Linked DNA regions of Homo sapiens: regions 1, 3, 4, 5, 6 and 7 are each linked to region 2. Evidence: fine-mapped QTL for protein levels in blood plasma. Region 2 holds a variant in brackets. A gene starts in each other region. All regions are shown on their reverse strands.

Region 1 (4,381 bases), not on the chromosome of region 2:
ATAGATGTTTGCTGTCATATCACTTCCCAGCTCAAAAACTTTCTGTGGCTCCCCAGTGTCTGAAGGTCTAACCCCATCCTGCCTTTCTAAGTTGGCCTGAGTTCCTACCAGCCCAGGGCAGAGAACACTTGATTTCCTCATATTTTATGTTACACACTGCCCCTGCCTTGTGTTCCCAGTATCTACAGATGGTAGGGAATATCTCGAGATAGCAGGTTTGTGGTAGAGGGCATTGGTCCCAGAAGTTTCACTGATAGAGATACCTTTTAAGATTTTATGGCTAACTTAAGAAATAATTCATGTCTCTTTGCAATATGGTTCAAGTGTCTTGAGTGACTTCGAGTCCCCACCTGGGGATAATGGAGGTGAAGCAGCAAGAAAGCACATTCCCACTCAGTTTCACAACCTGCACCATGTATGTGTTGGTGGTTATTTGGGCAGCAGGGAGTCCTGTTCATGGAAATGGATTCCTGCTCACATAATAACTAAGAGTTCTGTGAACTCCCTCAGCTGGGCAGGGGCAACTCTGGTGCTTCTGTCTGCAAGAAAGGGGACAGACAGGGAGGCTGATGTGAGGAGCTGGTTCTGGGAATAGGGTCATTTGTTCTGGGATATAGGGATGTGAGGGGAGGGCCAGCTCAATCCAGACTGATGAAGAGCGGGGAGAGTGATGAGTGCCTGCCTCAGCTTGGGCTGGATGGATGTGGGGAGGCTGGGCAGTGAGGGAGATGTGGATCTGACATCTCAGCCTGAGGGAAAGTCCCGGTTGAGATGGGGGAAGACAGAAAAAGAGGAATCTGAGAAGGGAGAAACCAAAGGCTGGAAATCCCAGCTCCGGGGATAAGGGAGTATGGGGACGGGGGAGGCCTGCCTCAGGTAACCCTACGCCTAACAGTTGTCTAAAATGCTCCCTTTCCTTGTCATGTTTGAGGAAAAGTGGTTCAAAGAGGCCGTCTGATGCGGGATCACACAGCGCTGAAGGGATGAGGGGCCCCGGGTGCTCCCGCCCGTCCTGCTGCCTCCTCCGGTGGCTCTCTGGGAGCCACAGCCCCGTCTAGCCACGGAGGGGCCTACAGCACGCCCCAAACGCTAAGGGGAAGCGCGGGAGGTGCGGTAGGAAGGCAGAGAAACCTGGTTTTTAAAACCAAGCCATTTTCAAGGAAAGAATTTCTTACTTTAAAACCTTGGTTTTTAAAACCAAGCCATTTTCAAGGAAAGAATTTCTTACTTAAAAATAGCGTATGGAATGGCGGCGGAATGACGGGAGGGACCGAGCTGGGGGACTGGACGGCGCCCCGGGGACACAGGAAGGAGGCGCGCAGAGCCGAGGCCAGAGGCGCGCCCGGGGAGTGGAAGCGCGAAGACAAACGCGGCGCCGCGGAGGGTGGGGGAGGAAGGGCCGGGGCGGGCCGCCGGCTGCCAGCCCAGGGCGGGGCGGAGCCCTACTTCTGGCCGACCGCGTAGGCGGTGCTTGAACTTAGGGCTGCTTGTGGCTGGGCACTCGCGCAGAGGCCGGCCCGACGAGCCATGGTTGCTGGGAGCGACGCGGGGCGGGCCCTGGGGGTCCTCAGCGTGGTCTGCCTGCTGCACTGCTTTGGTGAGTGAAGCCTGCCCCAGGGGCCCCGCGCCGGCCGGCGGGTACTGGGCAGCACCCAGGCTGGGTGGACGCGCCGGGCTCGAGGCGGTTGCCGATCAGAGACGGGTGGGGACGGGTCGCTGTGGGCCGGGAACAACTCAGCCGTGGGAGCCTTTTCAGGAAGAGAAAGTTGTTATTTCATCGCCAGTGTCCCTCATGGAGTCAGCAAGGAACTGTGTGGCCTTAGGGAAGGACGGGCTCCGGCCCGCTAGCCTCTCCTGCGGGGCCTGCGCCCCCCCGCCGGCCCCCTCCCGAGCTCCAGTGACCAAGTTCCTTCCTGGGCTTCCCCAGTAACGTCGCTGAGCGCTTCAGCGGACTGCAAAATTTTTCCCAGCCGTGAACGCGCCCGGGACGGGGAGCGGGCGCGGATGCCACCTGCTCGAGGGCGACGCCTGCTGCCCTCCCCGCGCGGTGCCGTCCCCGCCCGCGCGGCGTCCGCCGTATCAGCAGAGAGGACTTTTCAGAATCGCCCCACAGCGAGGAGCGGGTAGGCAACTAGGAAGCCCAGTCGGCAGCGGCCTCACGTTGGGATTCCTAAGTGGTGCGACTCCTGCTCCTTTTTCCTCCCCTCAAATCCTAAAAACTAGTATCAGAACTGGTTCCATCCTCTCCGTGTGTTGTCAGCCAAGTCGTCACAACAACCTCAGGAAATAGGTCCCCTTCTTCCCATTTTGCCTCCCCATCCTCCTTCACCCTCCACACATTGGCCCCAGTCAGGCCATAGCAAAACCCCGGGAGTACAGCAGTAACCTCCCAGCGAGTTCAACTGTACTTGAGGGGTTCTCATGGCTGGCTCCTGCACCCCACTGCCAGCCCTCCAGCCCGTCCGTCCGTTTGCTCAGCGTCCGCTGCCTGCCCGGGAGGTGCGCGTGTGCATCTATGGAAGACAGCCAAGGGGGAGGGGTTGAGATAGACTCAAAAGTACCCGCACGATCAGATAAGTCAGTGTTGTAAGAGGCCTGGGCTGGGCGTGGTGGCTTACACCTGTCATCCTAGCACTTTGGGAGGCTGAGGCAGGTGGATCACTTGAGGCCAGGAATCGGAGACCAGCAGGGCCAACACGGTGAAAGATCGGCTCTACAAAAAATACAAAAATTAGCTGAGCGTGGTGGCGCATACCTATAGTCCCAGCTACTCGGAAGGCTGAGGTGGGAGAATCACCTGAGTCCCGGAGGCAGAGGATGCAGTGAGCTGTGATTGTGCCACTGAACTCCAGCCTGGGTGACAGAATATGACCTGTCTCAAAAAAAAAAAAAAAAAAAAAAGGTGAGCTGTGAGGGTACAGAGGGAAGAAGAAGGCAGTCTCTTTTGTGAAATCAAGTGTCTTTTGTGAAGCAGTCTTCATGGGAGGGAGGATATTTGAGCCCAGCCTTCAAGGACTGGTGATGTGTGGACATGTGATAATGTGGGAAAAGATTGCTGAGTGTCCCCTTAGGGAGTCTGGATTCTCTGAGCTGAGAGAGCTTCTCCTGGGCCTTACAGGATCAGGACCATGCGCCTGGGAAGAAGAATCTGTTAGCAACAAAGAGGAAGGCTGCAGTCAGGAGGAATTGGAGGCAGGGAGGCCAGAAGGCCAGGGTGGACTACCATCACAGGGCCCAAATAGCTCTGGGGAGTTCATGTGCGGGTGGCTGGGGAAAAGAAGAGATACAAACAGGGATTAATTGAATGGATGGGGTAACTCTCCTCCAGGCAAGCTGGTCCCTCATTCCCTGGCACCTTGGGTCACTGCTGCCTGTACCTGTGTTCTCCCTTCCACTGCAAACCCAGTTTGCCCAAGCTCCACCTCCAACAGATTATTTGAACTGTCCCTTCCTGGTGATCTCTCTCACCTAATTCATGTATTCATTCAGAAGTCATTTGATTCAGCAAACATGTATTTATAAACTGCTCTGCATAGGCCTTAAACTAAAGACAAGACTGAATGGGTATATCCCCTTTTGGGGACCCAAGCCTGCCTCATTAGGGAAGCTGCAAATGCAGTGATTAACAGCATCAGCTCTGGGGTCAGATGCCTAGCTTTGGATCCTGGCCCCACTCCTCACCTGAGTCATGAACTTGTGTGAGTTCCCTAACTTCTCTTCACTTCAGTACCTTCACTTTTGAAGAGAGTACCACTCACATGAGGGAAAGGAGAATAATAAACCCACTTCATAGAATTACTGGGAACATCAGTCATGCAATAAATATTTACTGAGTGTCAATTATATGTTAAGCACTGCACAATGGACGGGGGATACAGCAAGCTATGCACAGTTCCCTGCCTTTGTGAAGCTCACCTTATAGTGAGGGAGAGAGACAGTAAGTAAATGAGTAAAAACATGGATGCTGGATGGTGATAAAGTAAACATTTACTAGTACAGAGATGAGTAAAGCAAAGAAAGGGGTGATGGAAGTCGTTAATACTTCAGTTTAGGGTTTTTTTTGAAATTTTAGAACAATTAAAATCTTTAGGACAGTTGCAAAATTAGTACAGTGAACATTTGCGTACTTTCTCCTTGAATCACCAGTTAACTGTCACATTAGTTTTCTTTGTTATTTTTGCCATCTGTTATTTTTGCCAAACCATTTGAGAGTTTCAGATCTCATGACACCTCACCTGTAATTCTTTATCATATGTCTCATAAGAACAAGAGCATTCTCCAACAAGTCACAGAATCATCATAATCTGGAAATGTGGCATTGATACAATACTGTTTCCTGGTAGAGAACCCAGAAGCCAGTCCTGCACCACATACTTCATTT
Region 2 (4,415 bases):
CACGAGACACCATGCCCGGCCTAAAATTCTTTTATCAGATATTAGCCTATCAAATCAAATGCAGCATTAAAAAAGATAACATGGCCAGGTGTGGTGGCTCACGCCTGTAATCCCAGCACTTTGAGAGGCCGAGGTGGGAAGATAATGAGGTCAGGAGATTGAGACCATCCTGGCTAACATGGTGAAACCCCGTCTCTACTAAAAATACAAAAAATTAGCCGGGTGTGGTGGCGGGTGCCTGTAGTCCCAGCTACTCAGGAGGCTGAGGCAGGAGAATGGCGTGAACCCGGGAGGCAGAGCTTGCAGTGAGCCGAGATCGCGCCACTGCACTCCAGCCTGGGCGATAGAGCCAGACTCATCTCAAAAACAAAAAACAAGAACAAAAACAAAAAACAAAAAATAAAAAATAAAAAAGGTAACATGTTCAAGTAGTATAGATGCCAAGAATTCAAAGATGATTTAACATAAGAAAAATCTGTTAATATAATAGATTTAGAGAGTACAGAAAAATAGATTAAATGTGTACAAAAGAAAACAATTACACAATGCAGAAAAAACACTCAGCAAAAGTTCAGCTCTGATTTATGATGAAATCTTTCTGGACTCTAGCTGTTTCTACGTTGTTGCTCCATCGTTTCAATCTGTGGCTTCCATCACATGTTCCAAGATGTCTGCCCCTCCTGTTATGACACATTCCGGACAAGAGAAAGGGGAAAAGGGAAGGAGAATGGCGCATTCTCTCTCTGTCTATGCAGACACTTCCATCACTTCACTTTATATCTCTTTGATCAGAATTAGTCCCAGGGCCACAGATAGCTGCAAATGGGGCTGAGAAATGAACTTTATTCCATGAGGCCACATTCTTGCTAAAAACACAGGATTCTATTTTGTAGAGAAGGAGTCAGTAAACTTTGGCCCTCACCTGCTTCTGTAAATAAAGCTTTCTTTTTCTATTTTTTTTTTTTTTTCTGAGACGGAGTCTCTCTCCGTTGCCCAGGTTGAAGTGCAATGGCACAATCTCGGCTCACTGTAACCTCTACCTCTCAGGTTCAAGCAGTTCTCGTGCCTCAGCCTCCCAAGTAGCTGGGATTACAGACGTGCACCACTATGCCCGGCTAATGTTTTGTATTTTTTCTTTTTTTTTTTTTTTTAGTACAGACGGGGTTTCACCATGTTCGCCAGACTGTTCTCGAACTCCTGGCCTCAGGTGATCTGCCCATCTCAGCCTCCCAAAGTGTTGGGATTACAGGTGTGAGCCACCACACCTGGCCAGTTTTTTTTTTTTTTTTTTTTTTTTTTTTTTGCAACAAGGTCTGGCTCTGTCGCCCAGGCTGGAGTGCAGCGGCGTGATCTTGACTCACTGCAGCCTCTGGATCTTGACTCACTGCAGCCTCTGCCTTCCAGGCTCAAGTGATCCTCTTGCCTCAGCCTCCCAAGTAGCTGGGATTACAGGCGCAAGCCACCATACCCTGCTAATTTTTGTATTTTTTTGTAGAGACGGGGTTTCACCATGTTGCTCAGGCTGGTCTTGAACTCCTGTGCTCAAGTGATCTACCCGCCTTCGCCTCCAAAGTGCTGGGTTACAGGAATGAGCCACGGATCCCGGCCTGTAAATAAAGTTTTATCGGAACACAGCCATGCCTGTTTGTTTACATGTCATTTATGACCACAGCAACAGCAGAATTGAGTAGTTATGATAAAGACTGTATGACCTGGTAAGCCTAAAATACTTGCTATCTGGCCCTTTATAGGAGATGTTTCTGGACCTCTGGTGTAGCAAGAAGGGGATAATTGGTATTAGGGGTAATTAGAAGCCTCCGTTATAGTGCTATTATTGCTGTTCAGCATCATCCTGGGCATGGTAGCCAAACTGCACAAGACAGAAAAAGACATTAAAAGTTGTAAGAATTGGAAAGGAAGAGATAAAACAATATGCTCACCTATACAGAAAATCAACACCATCAACAAACAAACAAACAATTCGACCTAATAAGAGGCTTCGGCAGGTGTATTAGTCTATCACCACAATAACACATGAAGAACATACAAGAAGAAACTTAAATTCTTTCCAAATTAACATATACATTCAACGCAATAAAAATAAAATTTCAATTGATTTTCTTTTTGAGATGGATTCTCCCTCTGTCACCCAGGTGGGAGTACAATGGTGTAATCTCACCTCACTGCAACCTCCGCCTCCAGGTTCAAGCGATTCTCCTGCCTCAGCCTCTCAAGTAGCTGGGAGTACAGGTGCCCGCCACCACGTCCAGCTAATTTTTGTATTTTTAGTAGAGATGGGGTTTCACCGTGTTGGCCAGACTGGTCTTGAACTCCTGACCTCAAGTGATCCACCTGCCTCAAACTCCCAAAGTGCTGGGATTAGAGGAGTGAGCCACTGCGCCCGACCTCAATTGGATTTTTAAAAGCAATGCAACAACTTTAAAAAAAATATATGTGGCAAGATAAAAGTCAATATGGGAAAAAAAGGAGAAATTGGAGGAAGGGGGAACTAGCCTTATTAGACTTTAAAATATATTACAAAGCCATAGTAATAAAAATAGCACAGTAATGATACAAGAATAGA[C/T]GGATAAACCAATGTTATAGAATAAAGAGCCGAGAGACAGAACTGTGCCTACATGGGAACTTAATATACAATAAAGGTAACATCTCAAATTGGTAGAAGAAAGACATTATTGGGAAAACTGGCTCACTCTATGAAGATAAGTAAAACTGGATTCATACCTAACATCACAGGCAAAGGTGGATGTTGGATAGATTGAAGACCTAAACATATAACATAAAATTACAGAACTAGTAGGAAAAAAGAAAGAAAGAAAAATCTATACTACTAAGAGTATAGAAGGGTTTCTTCTTCTTCTTTTTTTTTTTTTTGAGACAGAGTCTTGCTCTGTCGTCAGGCTGGAGAGCAGTGGCGTGATCTTGGCTCACTGCAACCTCTGCCTCCCAGGTTCAAGCAATTCCCCTTCTTAGCCTCCTGAGTAGCTGGGAATACAGGCATGCGCCACCACGCCCAGCTAATTTTTCGAATTTTAGTAGAGACGGGGTTTCACCCTGTTGGCCAGGCTGGTCTCCATCTCCTGACCTCATGATCCACCCACCTTGGCCTCCCAAAGTGCTGGGATTACAGGTGTGAGCCATCGCGCCCGGCTGAAGAGCTTGTTAAATAAGGCCTCCGAAGCACATTCCAAAAAGCCAAAAAAAATTTGTGAAATTGCATGAAAATGATAAATTTCAGTTCAACAGCAATGTATCAGGTAGGCTCCCAGCAAGCAACAGATGGCACACCCAAAAATGGGTAAGTGCAAGATTTCATAATATAGGGACTCTCTGCAAAGGTGTGAACAGGCTTAGGGAAGCCACAAGATGGAGCAAGAACCTAGGCATCCCAGAGTGGGGAGCTGTTACCACCTCCAGGACCGCAGGGAGAGGGCCTCCCAACAGGAGCTGTGATACTCAGTTGCAGGGGGCAGCTAACCCACAGCCACTCTACAGGGAGGGGCCGGGGAGTTAATATCCTCACTTCCCTCTCTTCCTGGAAGAGGGCTGGAAGCCAGATGGCAAGGGAGCGATTTGATGCAGTCATACAGCTCAGCCTCCCAGGCCACAGAACAACATGGAGAAGGATAGAGTGTGGATCTGGAAGGACAAATGGAAGACATTCAACACAGAAGGAGACCAAGATGAAGAAATACACAGGAAACCTATTGGAAAAGTGGCATCAGGTATAAACAAGCAGTTCACAGATGAGGAAGCCTGGGGTTCTAATGTGCATATGAAGACATGTTTACAATCACTAGTGACTAACTAGAGAAATCAAACACGAGTGAGCCATCTGTTTACACCCATCCAATTGACAAACATTAAGAGGAAGTCAATTGCTGCCAAGGTTGTGGGAGAAGCTGCTGATGGGAGGATAAATTGGAATAGCCATTCTGCAAGATATTTACTGGAATTAAGAATACATAGTATCAGGACGGGCACGATGGCTCACGCCTGTAATCCCAGCACTTTGGGAGGCCGAGGCGGGTGAATCATGAGGTCAGGAGTTCGAGACCAGCCTGACCAACATGATGAAATCCTGTCTCTACTAAAAATACCAAAATAAGCCGGGCATGGTGGCGTGCGCCTGTAATCCCAGCTACTCAGGAGGCTGAGGCAGTAGAATCGCTTGAATTCGGGAGGTGGAGGTTGCAGTGAGCCGAGATCGAGCCATTGCACTCCAGCCTGGGCAACAGAGGGAGACTTTGTCTAAAAAAAAAAAAAAATGCATATTATCGGCCGGGCATGGTGGCTCATGCCTGTAATCCCAGCACTTTGGGAGGCCGAGGTGGGTGGATCACTTCAGGTCAAGAGTTCTAGACCAGCCTGGTCAACACAGTGAAACCCCGTCTCTA
Region 3 (4,415 bases), not on the chromosome of region 2:
TATAACACAAAAAAATTATACCTATAAATTTGAACTTGCCAAATATCATCACAATAAGACTTTTGAAGTGTTTAAAAGCTTCCTTTTTTACCTTCCTAGAAGTATGGGGCACGGACTACAGCATTTCAAATACTTCAACACAAACTAAAAGTTAGCAGTACTCTAACCCCTGAAACCACAGTTCTGGTTGTCTGGTCTGGAATGAAAATGAGTTATTTGGCGAAATGCAGTTTAAATGGGTGATTCCAGCAGCGAGAGGCAGGGAAGTTGAGAACGCCCTCATAGGCAGTCTTTGCTCTGGCTACAAGAGGAAAAACAACTTTTACTTCAAGTTGTGCGTCTCTTCCAGTTTTACTTCCACAGTCAGTAATAAATCAACCCAGGCACCAAGTTCAAACAGATGAAGCTCACGCCTGACCAGTTAGGGCCAGTTATAGCCCTAAGATCTTTCTTTGCTTAAATCATGTCTTCCTTTTGGTCTTTACAAAAAATTCTGTTTAACTGCTTTCTACCCAATGGCTATTTCACCCCATTTCACCAAGGGGTTTGAGGATTGTCCAAGTATCTTTTCACATTATTTGTTGAATTTTTACCGTTTCATAGAAAAAGATCAATTTCTTTCTTTTTTCTTTTTAAATTATAGATTCAGAGGGTACATGTGCAAGTTTGTTACATGGGTGCATTGCATAAGGTGGGATTTGAGCTTCTAGTGAACACATCACCCAGTGAACGTAGTACCCAATTGGTAGTTTTCCCAACCTTCCCCCCTACTTTTGGAGTCCCCAGTGTCTACTGTTTCCATCTTTATGTCCATATCTATCCACTGCTTAGCTCCCGCTTGTGAGAACATGGTATTTGCTTTTCTGTTCCTGCCTTAATCCACTTAGGAAAATGGCCTCCAGCTGCATCCATCTTGCTGCAAAGAACTGATTTCATTGAAAAAGACCAGTTTCTCAGCCCTTCCTATTTACCTCAGAAATTAAGACATCAAGCCAATCCTTGAAATAAACTTTCTTTTTGTCGTTCAAGCAAAGTCAGAGCAGAAAATGCAGGTGGCAGGGCAAGTAGAGTAATTCTGCGTCTTTCTCAGGGATGTCAAGAGCAGACTCTGGGCATACATCGCTCCGCCTGAGGAAGGATTTAGGGAGCAAGGCTGCCTGGAGGGAACCGGCACAGGGTGCAGGACCCGGAATTCACCCTACACCAGAGCCTAACATGTTAAGAGGTCTAGGACCGTGTAGCAAGTTTTGAAGGCAACCCCACCCCACATCTTTGCATAGTCTGAAACAATTTTGCATCCCCCAACTATTTAGGCAATTGTTCTCATCATTGGATAATCGAATTTCGGAAAATTCTAGACTAATCACTACCTCCAATCACAATATGCTTTGATTGGGCCCGGGAGGGACAGAGAGGGGCTGAGCAAGGCCACAGGAGCACAGGGCCGAGCAAGTCCCTCCACTCACTCAGCAGATGGGGCACCCGGTGCCCGGCGCTCCCAGGCCCGACCCGAACCCACTTACCCTGGGGGGTGGCCTGGGCGCCTGCCGCTAGCCACCGCTGCAGGACCAGGTGCAGCAGGAGGACGGCGGCTCCGCGCGGGGCCAGCATGTTGGCTCTTCCTGCTCCCCGCGAGGCCGGGGGCGACGGCGGCGTTGGCCCCGCCTGGGGGTCCCCGGGCCGTGCGTTGAACCTCGGTCGGCGCCCGGGCCGGCGCCGCAGGTGACCCGTGCTCGGCGTCCGGGCTGCCGTCGGGGGCGCGCTCGCGTCCCCGCCGTGCGGTGCTGGGGAGCTGGCTGCTGGGCTCCGCGGCAGCGGCCGGGCGCTTTATGGTGCGGCCGGGCGGGGGAGGGCCGGGGCGGGGGCGGCCCCCTTGGCGGGATCCCCTGTCCTGGGAAGAGCTGGGCAGCTGGAGCAGCGAGCCGGGGCCGCAGGGAGAAAGGCGCGGGTGTGAGGATGGGAAGGAGCCTGGACGGACCAGGTCCTGGGGTGGGTGTAGACACGGCCCCGACGCGCGAGGGTAGGGGCGAAGATGGGCAGTCGGGGCTGGAGAGAAAGGGGTGCTGAGCAGAGACCACAGGGGAGAAAGGAGCGGGAGGAAAGGGGCGAAAGGGAGGAAGAAAGTGACACTGACCCACTAGCTTTGGGCACCTTCAGTCCCCTACTCCTTGCGCTCCTTTTGTTTTCTAAAAAGAAGAATATCCTTTGGATCGGCTTTGAATGCCCACCTTGGGTTCCCTTGCGAATGAATCCTGAAGTTCTCCAGGAACGCTCTGCCTCCTAAAGTGGCCCAGAGAGCAGCGAGTTTCTTTTATTTCTTCAAGCTTTTCTTGAATACTTGAAAGGCTGAATTTTTTTCTCTATCATTTTGAGACACAGTGAAAGTTTGAAAGTTGTTGTGTTTTTAATGGAGATAAAACACATCTCAAGGAATCCATCCAGACAGAGCCATTTCTAGGCTGGTGAATCTGTGCTTTATGGATAATTCGTTTTCAGTATGGTTTCCAAACGCCCTGCTTGCCCACCTCTATTCCTCTGTCACCAAAGATTCCGTGTGACAGTTTAAAGGTACGGGAGTAGAACTTGAAAGAGATCGGAGGAACGCAAGTAATTCGTCCTTTTCCTGGGCAAAGCTCCCGGAATGATATGGATTAACTAGAGGAAAAAATATTTGATAAACAGTGGCAAAAATTTCTCCTCTGTAACAATCTCGACTAATGGAGAACATCCAGCAAAGTATTGCTATCTCTTTTATGTCTCAAATAATTCCATTTCAAAGTTTAATAAGCCACAAACTGGGAGATTAATGCACCATTTTATCCCCAAACTGTGCTAAAATAACCTGACACCAATTATCACTCAATTTACAGCTAGCGACTTGGAGATTTGTGAGCTATCTGCAGAGCTCTCTAATATGTAAGGTCCAATACAGGTCTATCCAGGGTTCCTTTAATGCCACATTACACTACAGTCACTCTTTGGAATGGGGCATATGTCTACACATGAGAGAACACTGAGAGACACAGAGGATGTGCATAAATATCGACTAATGAGATAAACTAGATTTGGGAACATTCAAATCTCCAGACCATGTTCCCAGGAGTGGCCTGGGTTTGAGAGGAATCTAGGCTCCCAAGCTACGCTTCAAGCAGAACAGCCTTGCCTTTCTATGTTTTTACAGTAGACTTCAGAGATTAAGATTTTCTGTGAAGACAATATTTGGATGCTCAAAATTTTGAAAGCCACTATTCAGTGGTTCTCAGCTGATTGGGTATACCAGAATCTCCTGGGGAATTTAAAAAACAGTGATTAGGTGCCTACAGGGAACAAATGAAACCAAACATCAAAAGCAGCAATATGCTATATCACACCATAGACTACTCTGATACATAAAATAGGGTTACTCCTTAAATGAGTCACCAAGCAAGCCTAGTGGATGCCTGTGAGAGTTCTTGTGTAGTGTGCCACCAGACACTGCCTGTTTCCTCTCAGATCTGGTGCTCACCTTCCACTGCATGCTTGTCAGCAGTCTAGATAAAATGGGAGACTAGAGAGCAATAAGAAGGTAGAAGGTAGACACTAGAGTATTTACTTCTCTGTGACCTGAATGGATGCATCTTCTTTGTGACTCTTGCAGGTGGGGTCCACCATGATTCTAGCTTCTGCCTTCTCACCATTTGCACCCTCCAGCCATGACATTGGAGGTCACTTACTGCAGTTGCTAAAATGTGGATTGCCTCACTCTTCTGTTTGACATCTCAGTTCTTCTACTATATATGTAATCATTTCCCTGTATTAAATTTCTTCTATTTAAAATACCTAGAGTATTTGCTAGGAATCTCCATGGTGAGGACAATGCACCACGTGCTGCTGGAGGTAGATGTGTTGGAGGGCACCCTGCAGTGCCCAGAGTCTGGACGTGTGTTCCCCATCAGCCGCAGGATCCCCAACATGCTGCTGAATGATGAGGAAACAGAGTTGATCATGCCAGGTGCCAGTTTTTCTTTTTATGACCGTGTGTATTTTTGTTGATGTTACCCTGTTTCTGAATTCTGCCATGTGTGTCCCCAACCCTTGACCCAATGACACACCAGACGCACGGTGTTCTTGAGCACAATAGTATTTTTTCTCATTAAAGATTCAAAACCAAAACAAACAAACAACAAAAAAACTAGGAATTTTCGATCCTAGCAAATTCCCAGCAAAATAGCTTGCACATCATGATGGTTAATGTTGAGTGTCAACTTGACTGGATTGAAGGATGTAAAGTATGGCTCCTGTGTGTGTCTGTGAGGGTGCTGCCAAAGGAGATTAACACCTGAGTCAGTGGACTGGGAAAGGCGGACCCACCCTCAATCTGGGTAGGCACCATCTAATCAGCTGCCAGCATGGCTAGAATAAAGCAGGCAGGAGAA
Region 4 (4,415 bases), not on the chromosome of region 2:
AATCAACTCTGAAGAACCAGGCGCTGGGTGAGGCTTGGAAACACTAAGCTAAGGAGAGCATAGACTTTGTGTTGAAGAGCTCAGGGCTGGGGAGGTCAGTGTGTAGAACAAATGGCAGGTTGTTTTTTTTTTTTATTATTGTTGTTTGTTTGTTTGTTTTTGCTCTTGTTGCCCAAGCTGGAATGCAATGGCGTGATTTCGGCTCACTGCAACCTCCTTTTCCTGGGTTCAAATGATTCTCCTGCCTCAGCCTCCTAAGTAGCTGGGATTACAGGCATGCAACACCACACCTGGCTTATTTTTTGCATTTTTAGTAAAAACGGGGTTTCACCATGTTAGCCAGGTTGGTCTCAAACTCCTAACCTCAGGTAATCCACCCACCTAGGCCTCCCAAAGTGCTGGGATTACAGGTGTGAGTCACTGCGCCCAGCACCTTTTTTTTTTTTTTTTTTTTTGTGACAGAGTCTTGCTCTGTCTCCCAGGCTGGAGTGCAGAGGCACAATCTCAGCTCACTGCAACCTCTGCCTCCCAGGTTCAAAGGAGTCTCCTGCCTCAGCCTCCCGAGTAGCTGGGATTACAGGCACACACCACCACACCCGGCTAATTTTTGTATTTTTAGTAGAGATGAGGTTTCACCGTGTTGGCCAGGCTGATATCGAACCCCTGACCTCAAGTGATCCACCTGCCTTGGCCTCCCAAAGTGCTGGGATTATAGGCATGAGCCACTGCGATCAGCCTACAAATAGCAGATATTGTGTGATAGAGTTTGTCAGGGACCACAAGACAGACACACACTCAGTGGTACAGCTGCTCCGAGTTCTGTTTCCAGGGGATGATAGGTCATCCACATGCCTGGTGGGAAGGATGGAGCTGGTGTTGGGGTCAGGATTGGAGAGGCTGATTCCTAATTCACATTCATTAGTGGGTTCCAACAGCTGGATCTTGTTTTCCACCTGTCGTGTGAGGAAGTTTACCCTTCTTTGTTATATCATGTCTTGTGCACCACTTCTCAAGGTTAAGGACATGGCCAGATCAACTCTGAAGAAATTCCCCAGGGTTGAGGGCTGCCCCTTGGGAGCAGACAAAGGAGAGAAGAGATGATAACCATTAGACCCGCTGGAAAAAGCTATTCAGAGCTTAAAAAAATGAAAACAAAACCACAAAAACCTCATCTATGTCCAGTGTTTTTTGTGTGCATATTCTGGAGTATCATTTTTAATTTGATCCTGAAAACTGCCTTGTGAAGGTGGGGAGGATGTATTGTTGACCCTACAGGCTCAGACAGCAACAAGGCCAGAATCACATAGGTTGTAAGTTGCTGAATGGGAGCTGCAAGTCCAAGTCTTTGACTCTAAATCCAGCGCTCTGTCCAGAGCCCCGCTGCTGCCTCTGTTGGCAGCTGAAGCTGTCAGTCTGCTGCCCCCTGCCCAGTTCAGACAGGGTGGCTGGAAATGGACCAAAGGATGGAAAAAGAGAATAAGAGCGGACTTGAAGGGAACTGAAAGTATTTGTTAAGGGGAAAGCAGAAGGAAGAAAGAAAGAGGCATGAACCCTGGGGCCTGGCCTTGAAGCACAGTGTTCCAGGGGAGGGGGGATGCCGCTGTCCCCACCCCTCCATGGGGGCCTAAGCAGATCCAGAGCTGCCTGGCCTTCCTGGAGGGTGGCGTCCAAGCATGGATGGGAAGGCAGCAAAAATAGGCCCATGTCACTTCTGGGAGAAGACAAAAGAGGGAAGAGAGGACTACTATAGAAAAGTAGAAAAAGAGGAAGGGAGGGAATCTAGGCATACAGATCGGAAATGTGGAGCAAAACAAAATTTTTTTTTTTTTTTTTGAGACACAGTGTCGCTCTGTCACCTAGGCTGGAGTGCAGTGGCGTGATCTTGGCTTACCGCAACCTCCACCTCCTTTGCTCAAGTGATTCCCCTGCCTCAGCCTCCCAAGTAGCTTGGATTACAGGTGCACGCCACCCAGCCTGGCTAATTTCTCTATTTTTAGTAGAGGTGGGGATTCACCATATTGGCCAGGCTAGTCTCGATCTCCTGATCTCAAGTGATCTGCCTGCTTCAGTCTCCCAAAGTGTTGGGATTACAGGCGTGAGCCACTGTGCCCCGTGTGAAACAAATTCTTATGAAACAAATTTAATTTACATGTGCTTAAACTTTGGTGTCAACTTGCATGGAATCCCCAGGCTTGCTAGATTTTTCTAGTGCCTCCAGCCCTTAGGTCTCTTCCTATGTTCTCTCAGCTACTCCTCCTTTCCTTCAACACTGTTAGCCGCTTATCCAGGGCCCTACGTTTCAGCCCACTCCTCCTCCAGCCCCTCTCCACTCCACCTCCACAATGTCTGTTGGAATGGAACAGTTGGGGATACTGGCTGTTTGGCCCCCATGGGGGTCTCTCCATATAGGATTCAGAGAATTGGAAGACTTCTTGGGCTGAAGCAGAGAACGGGATGCAATTTTGAAACTGGCTTTGTGAGTCACTGTGAACTTCAAGCACCCTCCCACTTGAGGTAAGCTTCACCAGTTTGGCTTGTGGGAACTGTCAGACCAGCTCCAGGCGCTGGGGCTTTCTCAGTGGCCTTGTCAGCTCACAGCAGGCGTTAACAGCCTCTAATTGAGGAAACTGTGGCTGGACAGGTTGCAAGGCAGTTCTGCTCCCCATCGTCCTCTTGCTGACTGGGGACTGCTGAGCCCGTGCACGGCAGAGAGTCTGGTGGGGTGGAGGGGCTGGCCTGGCCCCTCTGTCCTGTGGAAATGCTGGGGCAAGTGGTCACCCTCATACTCCTCCTGCTCCTCAAGGTGTATCAGGGCAAAGGTAAGGAGGTCCTACCTGGCGTGGGGCGAGGGAGGGACTAGGAGCTGTGCCCCTCAGGGAGATCAGAGCCAGAGCCTCTGCTTGTGCCACATACACAGTCATCTGGAACTTGACTCCGAGCAGCTCCTGACAGCTCTGACAGTCTAAATCAGACAGGACAGGCTGGCAGTGCACTGGGAGGTCTGTGAGAGGGGTATCTGGCCCTGCCACCAGCAATCCAGGAAGTCTTGGGTGAGGAGATTCCTTCCCACTGGCTTCAATTTACCCTTCCGTGTAGTGGAGAGAGAAGCCTCCTTCCAGCCGCCTGTAAAGATGATGAAAATTGCATCCTCCAATTGTGGCATGAGAGAAGAGAAGCAGTCCCAAGGAAGTGGGTGGTTCTCGAGCTCAGAGACAGATGGATGGACCCCTGAGGCAGGAAAGCTGAGCCCAGGGAGGGGAGGGCGAGGCCAGCAGCCAGGAAGAAGCTGGAAGGCATGGTCCCTCATCTCCCCGGCTTCTTCAGCCATCCAGATGCCACAGGAGCCTGGAAATTATTAGGGACATGCAGGGTTGGGGCAGAAGAAGGAGACAATATGAGGAAGCTCCACAGCAAACCTAAAGCTGTCAGCCAGGCATGGAGCCATCTAACATTTACTCCTGGGGATCCCAGCTGAGGGCTGCTCCCCTCTTTCTCCAGTTCTGGGGTCCAGGATGCTCTGAAACCTGGATCCCGCATTTAATTTAATTGAATTAATTTATTTATTTCATTTTTAATTTTTATTTATTTATTTATTTTTTGAGACAGAGTCTCCTTCTGTCACCCAGGCTGGAGTGCAGTGGCGTGATCTTGGCTCACTACAAACTCTGCCTCCCGGGTTCAAGTGATTCTCATGCCTCAGCCTCCCGAGTAGGTGAAATTACAGACGTGCGCCACCATGCTTGGCTAATTTTTGTATTTTTAGTAGAGACCAGGTTTCACCATGTTGGCCAGGCTGGTCTTGAACTCCTGACCTCAGGTGATCTGCCCACCTTGGTCTCCCCCATCCAAAGTGCTGGGATTACAGGTGTGAGCCACCATGCCCAGCCAGGGTTCTGCATTTTAGATCAGTGACTCTGCAGGGGCTTCACGGAGGTGGAGAGCGTGGAATTAGAGGAGGGTACACTCTGGGCACAAAGAGGGGAAACTGAGGCATAGTGTTGTGTGGGTTCAGGGCCAGGTAGAAGCCCCATATGCAATAAAGTCCCATGCCCAGGTACTCAATTCAGTTACCGAGTCCCTGAGCATTCTTGTGTCCTTCAGGAAGACACAGTCAAGGCTCAGGTGGACTCAACATTTGTAAGGATGCAGGCAGCCTAGGGCAGAGCATGATGAGGAACAGGGAGCAGGGAGGGAGGAGTGGAGCCTGCAGCTCTTGTGGGTGGGTTGGGGGGCCTAGTGGCCCAGGATTCTAGGCAGGAGAGCTAGGTTGGAACCTGGTCTAAGGATCCTTGAATGCAGCTCAGACAGCCGAAGGAGGACTGATGGGATTGGTGCCTGGCTGTGGGGATGAGAGTAACAGAGAAGCTGAGGTTATGACCCTGAGGTCATGAGCCTGTGTGACAGAGGGCAATGCT
Region 5 (4,415 bases), not on the chromosome of region 2:
CAAATTATACATTAAATCACAAAATGTTTCTTGCAACTTGAAAGGATTATAAACAATATTTGCAGATACAAATGATTATATCTGTATATGTTTTTCCACAAATAAGCATATATCTCAGGGAGTCTACAAATGTCTTTTAGAAAAATGTTTGCTCTCAATATTTATGTGAGCAACTGAAGATAAAGTTGAGTTTTCAAAATAAATTTATGTATATCCATTTATTTGCTATGGTATAAATCATTCAGCAAAGTTGATATAAAGGTTTCTAGACCCCATCATATTATTTCAATTATAAATTCAAAGATGTGTCTTATGGTTAAAAAAACATCCTGTAATAGAATGAGTTGAATTTTTATTCACAAAGGAAATATTTCACACTCTGATTTAAGCATATAATAGGATATTTGGTCTATTCAGGAGGTTGGGAAGTTTGCCTGGAATAAAAAGCAATGGAGCTAGACCTGAAGAAAATAATAGAAGTTAAATGAATATGAAGAGAAGAAAAATATTCTGGCTTACAAAATGTCTCAGTATTTCTTTATGCTCATTTAAAAATGCTTTTCGACATTTCCTGAGTGGGAATTTTAAATGAAAATCTGTTCTGATTTGTGATAATATACATATATCACTTCATTGAGATTATTATTCTTTATAATTTACTTTTTATTATCATAAGCTTTAAAGGGATGGTAACTTGATAAACATTTTCTGTACTAAGACAAATGCTGCAAATATATAGATTTTTAAAAAATTCACCTTTGCAATAAAAAGCAAAACAGCCACAACAACAACAACAAAAATCTTATGTTGTTTTTCTTTCCTCTTTCTTTCCTCTCCAAATAGAAATTGTCAATGTAACATGCTCAAGAGGTAGCTACTTCCCTGACTTTCAGAGGAAAGAAGAACGGTAAAAGTCAAAAAAAGACTTCAAAGTGAATTGTAATAAGCAAGTTGTTTTAAAATACTTTTTATACTTTTTGGAATTTCTACAAAAATTTTATTTTCAATGTCCTTTTAGATACTACATCATAAAGAGAAATATTAAATATTAATTATTAGTTACATTCTATAATCTATTGAAATGTACTCATGATTCATATTGACGCCGCTCAAGAACTATCCATTGAATAGACCATAAATGTGCAAAGATTTCAAACTTTAATAGGCACTGGAAGTCCAACTAGTTGCATTTTCCTACTGAATACAGCATTTGCATGATTTTTAAGAGTTTAAATATTTCTATCTCATCAAGGCTGTAATATTTACCCACCACCCAGGAAGGGCGGTGGCTCCACAAGAATTTCTAAAGCAAAAATGTATTAAAACTATTAACAAGAAACTAAAAACTTGATTTAAAATACATTCTGTGATAAAAATTGCAGAAAGTTAATATTTTACTAAATATCTCAATATATTTTTGAACTATTATATACCCAAGTATTCAATAAAATATGTCAATTAAATTCAAAATTTGAGGAAGCAAACTTCAGGTCTGAAAAGAGGGAGTGGCTTACATACAACCAAAGCTGTTTTATGACTTTTTAAAAGATCAAATTTGTTAAAAGAATAAAAACTCACTTATTTTATCATTAAAAAATTCTCAGGCTTTTATAAATGTGTGTTATTGTCACTTTGGAAGTTAAGTAATAATGTTGCTTTTGTAATATCTTTGAACAGTTGTAAATAAAGATACAGATAGACATTGCTTTCCTTTTAAAATTGTATTTTTTGTCCCGAAACATTTATGTCTTTGTAAACAGAAACAATGTATTCTGTCACACAACTAGCTATGTCTCCCTGAGACAACAATCTTGATGGTTTACAGCAGGCTTCTCACTTCCAGTTACCAACACATTTAAATTATTTTTATGTCTATTTCAAACATTCCTCCAAAAGAGAAAAAATAATTTAAAAAATATTAATATCCTTGTACTTACCTGTCACAAATACTTCTGTGTCCAGAAAGGCAAAGCCAAATGCCAAGAGTTTAAGCCACAAATACATGGTCATATCTGGAAGTCAGCCGTGTCCCTAAGAAACAGCATGCGTCCTTCTGAAAAGCAAAATAATTGTTATCTCTGTAGAAGTTTTTCTCTGTAAAAACGAATCAAAAATGTAAAAGTAAATAAATAAATGCATACTCTCCACTGTTGTCTTATCAGACGAGGAACAATTTCCTCCTCTGTTACCCTAAGAACAAACCACTTGCTAGCTGCATGAACTGCTAGGTGATGATGTCAGATTCGGTTTTACTAACTTCTCCAAAAATACTGTAAGGGTCCTCTTTGCAGGAAGTCAAAAAAGTTGTTCTAAGTCAGTAGAATGGCATTGCACTTCCTTAATTCAAGTAATTACACCAAGTTAGAAAGCCTTTTAAAAGATTTTCCCATCAAGGAAGATGTTTTTAAACCATCCAAATAATGCTCCTTTACAGTATCCATTACCATTTTTTTTAAATTAAATCCCCACAAAATAATCAATAATTTTCTTACTTAAGAGATGACAAACAGATTCAGCATAAGTATAACAAAATGGGTGTTGGCAAGATGACTTAGTAGAAAGTATCAATATTTGACTTACTGAGACGGCCAAATGAATGAAAAAACTACTAATCTGGTTATTTTTGGCAACCCAGTATCATTTACCATTAGGGCATTCAAAACTCAGCAATATGACAGTTTTAGCAGTAAAACCCATTTCTTATGCAAAAGCACTTTCAGACAGCTTAACAGTTTTGCCCCAAATCTTTCACAGATATCCTTGTGAAGCTAGGAGTGGAATCAGAATGTCATTTCTACTATAGTTACAGCAAACCCTGCTTCCAAAAACTAATGTTTCTGTGACTTAAGATGTTCTTGGCGCTACTGATGAGGGAAAGGACAGTGAAAACCAAGAGATACCTTTAACAAAAGTTAACTTGTTTCCTTTTTCTCAGCAATACTTTTTCAACTTTTTTAACAAATAAGACAATGAATTGTATTAACACAATGCTCTTCACCATTCTGATGTTCTTAGTTAAGTCCATCTATTAGGAAAATGCTTACTGGCAAAAAGTATAAATTCAACAATACAATTAGATGAATTGGTTTTATTAATACAATATCTATATGCCTTTAAAAATAAAAGTACACACATGTGCAACTCATTTATTTGAACAATAGATAATGCTTGGGGGACTTTTAGACAGACAGAGCCCTTGTGGTAATTCTGCAAACCCTAGTTTGGAAGCATTATTGTAGGGTTCTTATATTTAAGTAAATAAATCTTTTGATACTTACAAACTTTTTTGTTTTACTCTTACATTGGCTGCTAGGAACTACAGAGCCAAATTTCTATCACACTTTGTGCAAATGGAAATAACCCCACAGCTTAAACTCTAGGTAATAACCTTTTAATAAGATTGTAGTTAAGAATATTATTTTACTATGATTATTATTATATTTAACTTATGGAGCACTTACTATGTGCAGGAACTATGCTTTGCACTTTACATATATTGTATAATTTGTACGATACCCTTGAGCTAGATAATGTTATTATTCCCCATTTTATCTGTGATGTTCAGAGAGGTTAGTTGAGTTGCCTAAGATCTTGCAGCTAGGATGTAGACAAGCTATATTTAGAACCCAAGTCTCCAAGTTTAATTTTGCTTTCCTTACTCACCTTACTATTGCCCTTTATTTTTCTCATCCCTTTTACCAATCTTTTTGTACTATGTAAGTTTATAATACTCGAAAAGATAGACCTTTGAATCAGTGAAAATGAAATTATTCTCTTTTTGCAAATGTATTTTTAAATAAGATAACTGTGCAAGTAAGCACTAATTTTCATGTGGGTAGGCCTAATAAAACATCAGTGTCAGAACTCATGGATTTGAATACTCAGCTCCTCAGCCTATGTCTTAAAATACATTTGCAACAGAAAACTCTTTGGGGATTTGCTTTAAATATCTTTAAGCAAATACTTGTGTTCTGTGAGCTTGCTGTTATGGCAGAATATTTGGCAAAATTAGAGGCCAGGAGAAAAGTGTATATGATCTTTTAAAAGGAAGAAAAGTATATAAAATATACTCTATAACAATGTGAGTTTAGCAGCCTTAAACGGACATTTTAAAAGGGATTTGTGGCTTTAAAAAAATAGTAAGAAGTTAGGAGATTCAATTCCATTTCAGACAGGTGAGAAGACAGATTCTACCCAAGGAATCCAAGATAGATTAGCAACAAATGAGTTGCATTATATGTGTTAATCCAACACATATATAATGTTTTAACATATTCATTGTGTTAAAATTGAGTTTAGTGTCTATAGGAAATACTAGAATTTTAAGCAGCAAAATCTGTACTGTGTATTATAAAGGTGTAAAGACATACAGCTTGAAATACAGAGACATCAGCAGATGAATGTATATACAATTC
Region 6 (4,415 bases), not on the chromosome of region 2:
TACAAAAAATTTTAAAAAAATAGCCATGCATAGTGGTCACTGTACTCCAGACTGGGTGACAGAGTGGGAGCCTGTGCCCCCCTCCCCCCAAAAAAGAGAATGTAACATTAATTTACAGGGTCTCTTTTAAAAATCTAATACAATGTTATCTTTTCTTGCTGAAGGAGCAGGGTCGTATCCTAAGGTTAAATCAATTTATAGGAAAAATATAACACACAGTTCCAAAGTGTAACAATTTGACCAAGAGGAATTTGATTCTGGTGCTGTTTCAAATTTTATTTGCAGGGTTCTTTCTTTTCACTTTTATGTTTTTTTCCCTTTTATTTTTAGTTGACATATAATAATTATACATATTTATGGGATACAGAGTAATATTTTGATACATGTATTCAATGTGTGATGATCAAATCAAAGCAATTAGGATACCTATCACCTCAAACATTGATCATTTCTTTGTGTTGGGAACATTCCAAATCCTCTCTTCTAGCTTTTTGAACATATACATTAAATTATTCTTAACTGTATTCACTCCATAGTGCTACAGGATGCTGGAACTTATTCCTCTTCTCTAGCTGTAACTTTGTATCTATTAACCAACTTCTTCCCATCCTCCACTTCCCTCTACCCTTCCCAGCCTCTGATAACCACAATTTTACTCTCTACTTCTATGAGCTCATTTTTTAAGCTTCCATATATGATTGGGAACGTGGTTTTTTATCTTTCTGTGCATGACTTATTTCACTTAACATAATGTCCTTCAGGTTTGAGGACTGAGAAGAGCAGACATTTTATTGTTCATCTCCATGTTGAGAATCAGAAATGTCCCCAATTAAAAAGTGATTACAAATATGTTATATCAGGAACTGTGGCTTGCCTGTGGGTCCTGGGTGGGCAAATAACTAATTTACATTCAATAGGAATGAGCTTGAAATTTCCTAGACATGATATGATTTGGCTGTGTTCCCTTCCAAATCTCATCTTGAATTGTAGTTCCCATAATCCCCACATATCATGGGAGCAACCCAGTAGGAAGTAAGTTAATCATACGAGCAGTTACCATCATGCTGTTCTCGTGATAGTGAGTTCTCACTAGATCTGATGGTTTCATAAGGAAGGGGCTTTCCCCATTGCTGCTCAGTGCTTCTCTTTCCTGCCACCGTGTGAAGAAGGACGTATTGGCTTCCCCTTGCACCATGATTGTAGGTTTCCTGAGGCTTCCCAAGCCATGCTGAACTAGAAGTCAATTTAACCACTTTCCTGGCCAGGCACAGGCCCATGCCTATAATCCCAGCACTTTGGGAGGCTGAGGCAGGTGGATCACTTGAGGTCAGGAGTTCAAGACCAGCCGGGCCAACATGGTGAAACCCTACTAAAAATACAAAAATTAGCTGGGCATGGTGGTGCTTGCCTGTAATCCCAGCTATGTAGGAGGCTGAGGCAGGAGAGTTGCTTGAACCTGTCAGGTGGAGGTTGCAGTGAGCTGAGATTGCACTGCTGCACTCCAGTCTGGGCTACAGAGTGAGACTGCATCTCAAAAAAAAAAAAAACCAAAACAAACAAAACAAAACAAAACCCCTCTCTTTCCTTTATAAATTACCCAGTCTGGGGTATGTCTTTATTAGCAGTGTGAGAACAGACTAATACAGACTACAAGGGTGGGAAATCCATTCTTTTGGGCCAAGTAATCTTACTTTTTTTCTGATGTTCAGTGGATAGGCTGATGTCAAACTTCAAATAGTGAATTATCATAAAGGAAGAAGAGCAGAGGGTGGTGCTGGGGGTAAGATATGCAGCACAAAGGCTACGTGGGTCTGATTTCCCAGACTTCAGGCTCTGAATGACACCTACCCAGGCTTGACTGGGAAGCTCCTATGTCTTAGCCCCTGAATTAATCAGAGGGATTCCTGCCTGGGAACGAAAAGCAGACATTCTCTATCAGGGTCCCTTATTCTTTTCTGAGTACTGGCCCCCCTGAGAGTACAGTAGAAGCTATGAATCTTCCCCCTACAAAAAAGCACTCATGTACCTTCAAACAAAATTGTTCTCAGTTTCCGTGATGCTCTTAGATAAAAAAATTTACAAGACCTCCGGTTTCTGGTTTCTGGGGCCCCACACAAGTGTGCTGGGTGGAGAGAAAATCTCAGTGGTTTTTTTTTTTTTCTCTCTAACCCTGTTTGGTAAGTTCCGTTTTTAGCCCCGGCCTTTTTCTAGCCAGGCTCTCAACTGTCTCCTGCGTTGCTGGGAAGTTCTGGAAGGAAGCATGTGCTCCAGAGGTTGGGATTCGTGTCTGGCTCTGGAATTGCTACTGCTGCCTCTGTCACTCCTGGTGACCAGCATTCAAGGTACTTTCCACCAACTGTGTATCTGTGATTGTGCACTGAAGGCATGGTCAGTTGGGAAAGGGGAGACGGGATGTAGTTCAACCCTAGAAGCCAGATCTGGTGTCTGGAAAGCAGGTATTTCCATTCCAATAGCATGGCCATGGCATGGTTGGGGAGCCTTTCTTAGCACTGATGAATGGAGCTTCATCTCCTTTCCCACGGGGATGTGATCAAAACAGGAACCTGGGGAGCAAGAGAAGTAGGCTCCTCATATTTTGTCCCGTGGTTGGTGGTCCATGAAGTTGTGGAAAAGTGTTTGTTTTTTCATTTTGAATAAGAAGAAGCTCTACACTGACAGCTGCTGCATTTTATGCTCAGACACACTGTACTCCCTTAGGCATTCTTTGAGACCTCTGTATATGTGAGGTGTTGCATCCTGAGCCAAGGTAAATGATATTGTCATTGACCCAAAGAAAAGATAGATCAAAATTATAGGAAGAAAAGCTTGGAAAGGATTGCTGTCTGGGGTCTCTGAATGAGGGTCTGAGAAGAGGCTGGAAGTGCTTCAGCATCAAAGGAACCTTAACACATCTGATTGCTAAGAGTTAAGGTCCATTCCTCTGCCACAGCCTGTTCGGTCCCCGGTGTGTGACCAAGGGCTGAGCTAACTTTCCTTCTCCTGTTAGAGCTGCCTCACCCTCTTTCTTCATCCAGTACCTCTCTTCTTATGCCAGCTGAGAAACAGCAGTGAAACCTTTGACTTTCTTGCTATTCCCCCAAGTAAATACTCAAGTCTTTTTAATTTAAAGGGCTTTAATGCTCACCACTCTGAGTAAAACAGTAAAAATCAACAAACATGTGGTAGTCACACTGTGGCATAAAATGATGATAGTTTGTAACTTTTGGGGAGATGAGGTAGAATGTGTGGAGGATCGGTCTCTCACATATTCTACCTCTCAGGTAGAGTCCTTTGGTTCATGACTGTGTGAGTCTACGGCTATATAGGTTCTGTGGGCCTGACTCAATGCATAGGACATTGGTATGACCTTGGGATTGGGGGCTGATGTGAAGTATTCATCTAACTATTGGGAAAAGCAGGGTTGCCAATGAGAATTGGAATATTTTAGGACTTTCTCTAGGCATACTGAAAACATCCTGACAGTTGACCTTTCTCTGACTTCTTTTCTAGGCTTCATCTTGGTCATTTATTCTTCTTTGAAACAATCAGACCACACCTGATTATGTTATCCTTTGAATGGATAATATTGGTTTTGATGAGGTTAGTAAACCTGGGTTATAACACCCGGGCTATAACCTGGGTTAGTAAAATACAAATTAAGCACTTACTGTGTGTCAGACATTGTGCTAGGCCTTTTGCATACTTTTTCATTTAACTTTCATTAGAAAATAGTGAGGTGGCTATTATTATCTACATTTTTCAGATGAGAATACTGTCTTGCAGAGAGATTAAGAAATTCTCCTAAGGGCACACAGGTCTAACTTCCAAACCATTCTATTATGATTATACCTTTCCTAGACTAAGGCGAGGGAATCTTGGTGAAGGTCAATGTGTCTAAATCTCTTAATTTTACTGTTTGCCTTAAAAGAGGCGTTTTCTCTTACCTCTGGGCTTATGTACATGCCTTCTTTCCACCTAGATTTCTCTCCCTCCTGCCCTCTCCCTGCCTCTCTTTTAGGCTTCTGTTTTTATGTGACTTCTTCTTGGACTGTCTGCCTGTGACTGTGTTCTGAAGGCATGGTTAGATGGGAACCTCAGGCTCCAGATTATGGTTTGTGAATTGCTTGGTGGATCATCTGTTTCCTTGAACTTTTTGAGGACAGAAACCATGTGCAGTGTTGTGCTGCTGAACTTAGCACAGGCCTGGAGTGTGGCATGTGCTCAATAAATAATTGTTACACAAATGAATGAACAACTTCAAAAAACTTCCTTTTGGACTACACATCCATATCTTCCTGAGAAGTGCAAGTAGTTCTCTCCTCTGCCGTAAGGGATGCTTCTGTGGAAAACTTTGAGAAGCACTCTTAGCTCTCTTCTTCCTTCTCTCCTCAGACTTGGGTTTCTCAGTTCTTTGG
Region 7 (4,393 bases), not on the chromosome of region 2:
CTCACAAGTAGCTGGGATTACAGGCGCATGCCACCACACCCTGCTAATTTTTTTGTATTTTTAGTAGAGATGGGATTTCACCATGTTAGCCCGACGGGTCTCCAACTCCTGACCTCAAGTGATCCACCCGCCTCAGCGTCCCACGATTACAGGCGTGAGCCACCACACCAGGCCAAATCATACATTTTTTATGTGGTCATTCTTTTCTTGCTCGTAAGTTTTCTTACTGGAAAAGACTGTAAAAGTGTCCCCTTCACTCCCATCTCTTTCCTTCTTCATTAGATAGCCACTCAGTATCAAATGCTAAAAGTTACTAGAAAAGTGAATTGGCATTTGAAAAGTAAATATATGTCAAAGTAGAAAACAAAGGCCCTATGTGTGTGAACTCTCCAACCACTTATCTAGCTAGTCCCCTTTTAATAAATGTTCTAAAGAAAACATACAAAGTTTTGAGTCTTACCAAAAACTCTTCAAAAGAGAGTGAATAAGTTGATGACAGATAGGTGTCCACAAAGCACATCAGAAAAGTATTTAGTGTACAATTACCAATTTTAAATAGTTTTCAGTCAGGGTAGGCTTCCCTTGACTGTCTAACAAATTAAGTAATTTTAAATATTCTTTAAGTTTGAGAGATCTCTTAAAAATAAGGTTTGACCTTTTTAAAATAAATGTTAAAGATTCTTGTAGAATATATTTGGTAGCTGTAAACGCTTGGTACCAGATCTCATTGCCAACTCATGTCTTTCATTATATCAACACGTTTTATAAATATACACAATTTGTGCTCACTGGTACGTCAGACCATAAAATAAACGGGTATATATGCAACTACTGTACCTCTGCAGATTGGGAAATTATACTCTTTGGGCTATGTACACTTAATGTTTAAGAATAACAACAAATAATGCAGTCTCTGTACTGCCAAAATAAGAAAGAAAATTGAGGATACTGGCTTTTCAATGTATCTTTCAGGGAAAAATAACTGTCCTTATTTAAGCATGACTGTTGACCCCTATCAGTCCAGTTTTTGAACCAAGCGGGGGCCTTTTTCTAACTCTGAGAACACGTTGAATGAGCATCTTACTCCAGCCCACCCAAGTAACAAATTCTTTCTGTTAGGAATTGTGCTTGTGATTTTCCGAAGTTAATTTAACCCTGGATTTACCTGAGTCCATGAAATTACAAATCACACCATGTTAGATGGAATAGCATAATAATCAACAACACCGGCACTGGAGTCAGACTAAGGTGGTTCAGACCCTGCCTCCTATAGCTGCCACCTGTACATCCTTGGGCAAATCCCTTAATGTGCCTACCCCTCAGTCTCTTCATCTGAAATGAAGTTAACTGTAATACCTACCTTCTAGTTACGAGAACTGTGTGCTGCTCAAAGTGCTAGATGTATTATCCTCCTCATCATCGTCATTGGGAACTTAAAGAATTTTAATCTAAGAAAATACATTTTGGCCGATTGTAAAAGAAAACTAATTTATTAATATTGGTGTTGTAGCAGCTTCTGTGGTGACTCCAGAATTCATGTTGGAACTCATTCAATTCAGGTAGATAGAGTAATTACAGTTCACATTTATCTTGAAGCCTGACTGAGCTAAGCCCTTCGCATGGATTATTTCATTTTACCTCACAATGACCTTGAGGTGAGGTTTATTATTATTCCCACTTTACAGTTAAGGAAACTGAGGTTTGGAGAGTTTAAATAATAGCTAAGCCTAAGCTTACCTAGTGAGAATTGGACCTGTGTTAGGAACATAGGCAACCTAAATTCAGAGCTTCCAGAGCCAATCTACTTACAGCAGCTTTCTTAAATTAAAAAAAAAAAGAAAGAAAGAAAGAAACGATACATAAATTAAAAATTATTGGCCGGGCATGGTAGCTCATGCCTGTAACCCTAGCACTTTGGGAGGCAGAGGCAGGTGGATTGCTTGAGCTCAGAAGTTTGAGACCAGCCTGGGCAACATAGTGAAACCCCATCTCAATTTAAAATAATAATAATAATAATAAATTCTTGGGACACTATCAACTAATAGCTAGAGAAACTAATAGCTTAGAAAATTTATTTCCAAGGGACTTTTGTTAAGATACTATATTGTAGTCTGAGAATCAATGATTTTCAAAATAACACATTGCCCTATTACAGCAAAACTACACTTCAAATGTTCAAATTTCACACATTGTTAGAAATTTAAAATAAACTAAGCCAATTGGAAGACCTCAAAAAATATTTACAGAAAGAAAGACATTAACATTGTTTACCTGTTACTTGAATTGAAGGGAATAAGTTGAGAGCCAAGAGCAGCCTGAGCATCTTTGTCCTGACGATGGGCTAGGGTTCCAGCCCCTCCTCCCCGAGGAACCCGAAGTGTGAGGGGAACTGAAAGACGCACCTGCCAAGGCCTGAGAGTCTCCGTCATCCACGGCCACCACCACCGCCACCATCCCCTTAGGGCACATGATCAAGGCACTCAAACCACAAGGCATCCTGACTGCAGCATTTCACACAGGATATAACGTTGTTTTGATGACTTTAGACTTTTACTTCTATTTTTAAAGACTTTTTTTTTGTCACTGAAAAATAGTCGGTCACTACATGATGGGCTTATGGGAATTATTCTTTATTGATGGATATCAAGAGTTGTGTAAAAGGGGTGCTTGAAATCCAGCAGAGATTAAAGGGGAGACAAAGTGTTCTTAAGAAGGAACAGGCCGGGTGCAGTGGCTCACGCCTGTAATGCCAGCAATTTGGGAGGCCAAAGTGGGTGGATCATTTGAGGCCAGGAGGTCAAGACGAGCCTGGCCAACATGGTGAAACCCCGTCTCCATTGAAAATACAAAAAATTAGCCAGGCATCATGGTGGGTACCTGTAATCCCAGCTACTAGGGAGGCTAAGGCAGGAGAATCGCTTGAACCCAGGAGGTGGAGGCTGCTATGAGCCGAGATCATGCCACTGCACTCCAGCCAGGGCAACAGAATGAGAAAAGAAAGACAGAAAGAAAGAGAGAAAGAAAAGAAAAGAAAAGAAAAGAAAAGAAGGAAAGAAGGAAGGAAGGGGAGAGAGAAAAAAGAAAGGAAGAAAGAAAGAGAGAGAAAGAGAAAGAAAGAAAGAAAGAAAAGAAAGAAAGAAAGAGAAAGAAAGAAAGAAAGAAAGAAAGAAAGAAAGAAAGAAAGAAAGAAAGAAAGAAAGATGGAAAGAAAGAAAGAGGGAGGGAGGGAAGGAAGGAAGGGGGAGAGAGAGAAAGAAAGAATAAAGTCTCTAGCAGAGGAGAGATTTTCATAGGATGGGGACAGGTTGTGTCAAAAAGATAATGGTAAGAATTCTACTGAGGAATTGGGAAACATCTGCATAAACGTTTAAAGGAGTTACAAATATTAGAAATGTAACATTTGTGTAGGACATAAGGTAGCCCTCTGGAGCATTTAGCACACAGTGCTTGATTTATGTCAAGCCTCCTCCAACTCACTTCTAGGAACTTTGCAAAACCCATTCTACGTGCAAGCAGCCAGCCAGCTGAGTATCTGGGGGAGGTTCCCTAAGCAAAGGGAAAGTCAAAACAACATTCTATGTTCTTAGTGGGACAGTAAGGCAACCAAAAGCCCCTTGGTGTCTCATGCTCTCTATGTCCCTCAAGGTTAAGTAATAGGGCACAAAAGGAGGCTCCGTGGCAGGATTTCTGAGATTCATAACCACCACCCGACTGCACCCTTCTTCAACTCCCAGGCCCTTTGCAGAGAGGGTTATTCCACCAGCACGGCCAACTGCTCTCTTCTTCCGGCACCTACGTCAGTATCTTGTACTCAATGACTTCTTCAAAACTTTTCCAGTAATTTTTTTCTTCTTTTTGATAATCTAAGCTTTGTGCAATTACTCTAGTTGGGGGTTTTGTGTATGTGGGTTGTTTTAAAAGATAACTTGTATTGCTTTTTATTCTGACTATAAAAGTAAGGCATATTTCATTGAGAATGTTTAGAAAAATTATAAGCATTAAAACAAGATTCATCCACATTCTTACCACCCTAATATAAACACTGCTAATATTCTGGTCCACTGCCTTCCACCTGTTGGTCTGTTAAGATTTTTACATGTTTAATATCATGTTTTACTTATAGTTTTCATCAGATATGTACTATTATTTGTTATATCTTGAACATTTTCCCATGTCATTTAAGTATCTTTATAAACATTATTTGTAATTGATGCATAATATTCCATTCTCTAATTATATCATAAATTGTTTAACAAACCCCTAGTGTTGTTACCTTTTTTTCTTCGCTATTTTAAAATGCTACAGTCAAACTCTTTGATGACCTAGCTGTAAGAGGAGGCAGGCTTCATGTCCCTCCCTCCTGATCTGATAAATGACAGATCAAAAGTATTTC

Direction of the effects. Alleles are on the strand shown, and positions count from the first base shown. The strength of an association depends on the size of the effect and on how common the allele is.
With allele C in place of T in region 2, the plasma level of the protein whose gene starts at base 1,474 in region 1 is lower (moderate association).
With allele T in place of C in region 2, the plasma level of the protein whose gene starts at base 1,801 in region 3 is higher (moderate association).
With allele T in place of C in region 2, the plasma level of the protein whose gene starts at base 2,549 in region 4 is higher (moderate association).
For the plasma level of the protein whose gene starts at base 2,239 in region 5, allele C in region 2 goes with a lower level than allele T (moderate association).
For the plasma level of the protein whose gene starts at base 2,202 in region 6, T is the high allele of the variant in region 2 and C is the other (moderate association).
With allele C in place of T in region 2, the plasma level of the protein whose gene starts at base 2,381 in region 7 is lower (moderate association).

The links. PIP is the chance, under the fine-mapping model, that this variant and not a neighbour inherited with it causes the effect. Protein levels are from antibody-based Olink assays in UK Biobank. Linkage for the fine-mapping came from a reference panel and not from the study's own genotypes, which makes the PIPs less certain.
Region 1: CD58 starts here. The variant in region 2 is fine-mapped to the plasma level of the CD58 protein (UK Biobank, PIP above 0.99).
Region 3: THBS4 starts here. The variant in region 2 is fine-mapped to the plasma level of the THBS4 protein (UK Biobank, PIP above 0.99).
Region 4: it holds the start of CD244, and the variant in region 2 is fine-mapped to the plasma level of the CD244 protein (UK Biobank, PIP above 0.99).
Region 5: PTPRC starts here. The variant in region 2 is fine-mapped to the plasma level of the PTPRC protein (UK Biobank, PIP above 0.99).
Region 6: it holds the start of CD48, and the variant in region 2 is fine-mapped to the plasma level of the CD48 protein (UK Biobank, PIP above 0.99).
Region 7: CD28 starts here. The variant in region 2 is fine-mapped to the plasma level of the CD28 protein (UK Biobank, PIP above 0.99).

What each region holds. Positions count from the first base shown.
Region 1 is chr1:116,568,119-116,572,499 of GRCh38, reverse strand. CD58 (CD58 molecule) reads left to right here and starts at 1,474. Exons shown (of 6, transcript NM_001779.3): 1 at 1,474-1,597. The coding sequence starts at 1,528. LOC124904385 (a long non-coding RNA gene) reads right to left here and starts at 1,525. Exons shown (of 2, transcript XR_007066497.1): 1 at 1,447-1,525. RefSeq lists silencers at 1,273-1,732, 1,803-1,872 and an enhancer at 2,343-2,402.
Region 2 is chr17:7,164,263-7,168,677 of GRCh38, reverse strand. No RefSeq gene overlaps it. Among named protein-coding and RNA genes, the nearest start is that of ASGR1, 13 kb to the left of the region's middle. The variant C/T (reference allele first, on the strand shown) is at 2,585.
Region 3 is chr5:80,032,734-80,037,148 of GRCh38, reverse strand. It overlaps THBS4 (thrombospondin 4), which reads right to left and starts at 1,801. Exons shown (of 22, transcript NM_003248.6): 1 at 1,524-1,801. The coding sequence starts at 1,611. It also overlaps the pseudogene TRMT112P2.
Region 4 is chr1:160,861,021-160,865,435 of GRCh38, reverse strand. CD244 (CD244 molecule) reads left to right here and starts at 2,549. Exons shown (of 9, transcript NM_016382.4): 1 at 2,549-2,819. The coding sequence starts at 2,759. RefSeq lists an enhancer at 2,684-2,733.
Region 5 is chr1:198,636,864-198,641,278 of GRCh38, reverse strand. It overlaps PTPRC (protein tyrosine phosphatase receptor type C), which reads right to left and starts at 2,239. Exons shown (of 33, transcript NM_002838.5): 1 at 2,142-2,239; 2 at 1,938-2,053. The coding sequence starts at 2,010.
Region 6 is chr1:160,709,609-160,714,023 of GRCh38, reverse strand. CD48 (CD48 molecule) reads left to right here and starts at 2,202. Exons shown (of 4, transcript NM_001778.4): 1 at 2,202-2,342. The coding sequence starts at 2,261. RefSeq lists enhancers at 1,174-1,233, 1,774-1,953.
Region 7 is chr2:203,704,627-203,709,019 of GRCh38, reverse strand. It overlaps CD28 (CD28 molecule), which reads right to left and starts at 2,381. Exons shown (of 4, transcript NM_006139.4): 1 at 2,272-2,381. The coding sequence starts at 2,323. RefSeq lists an enhancer at 2,352-2,501.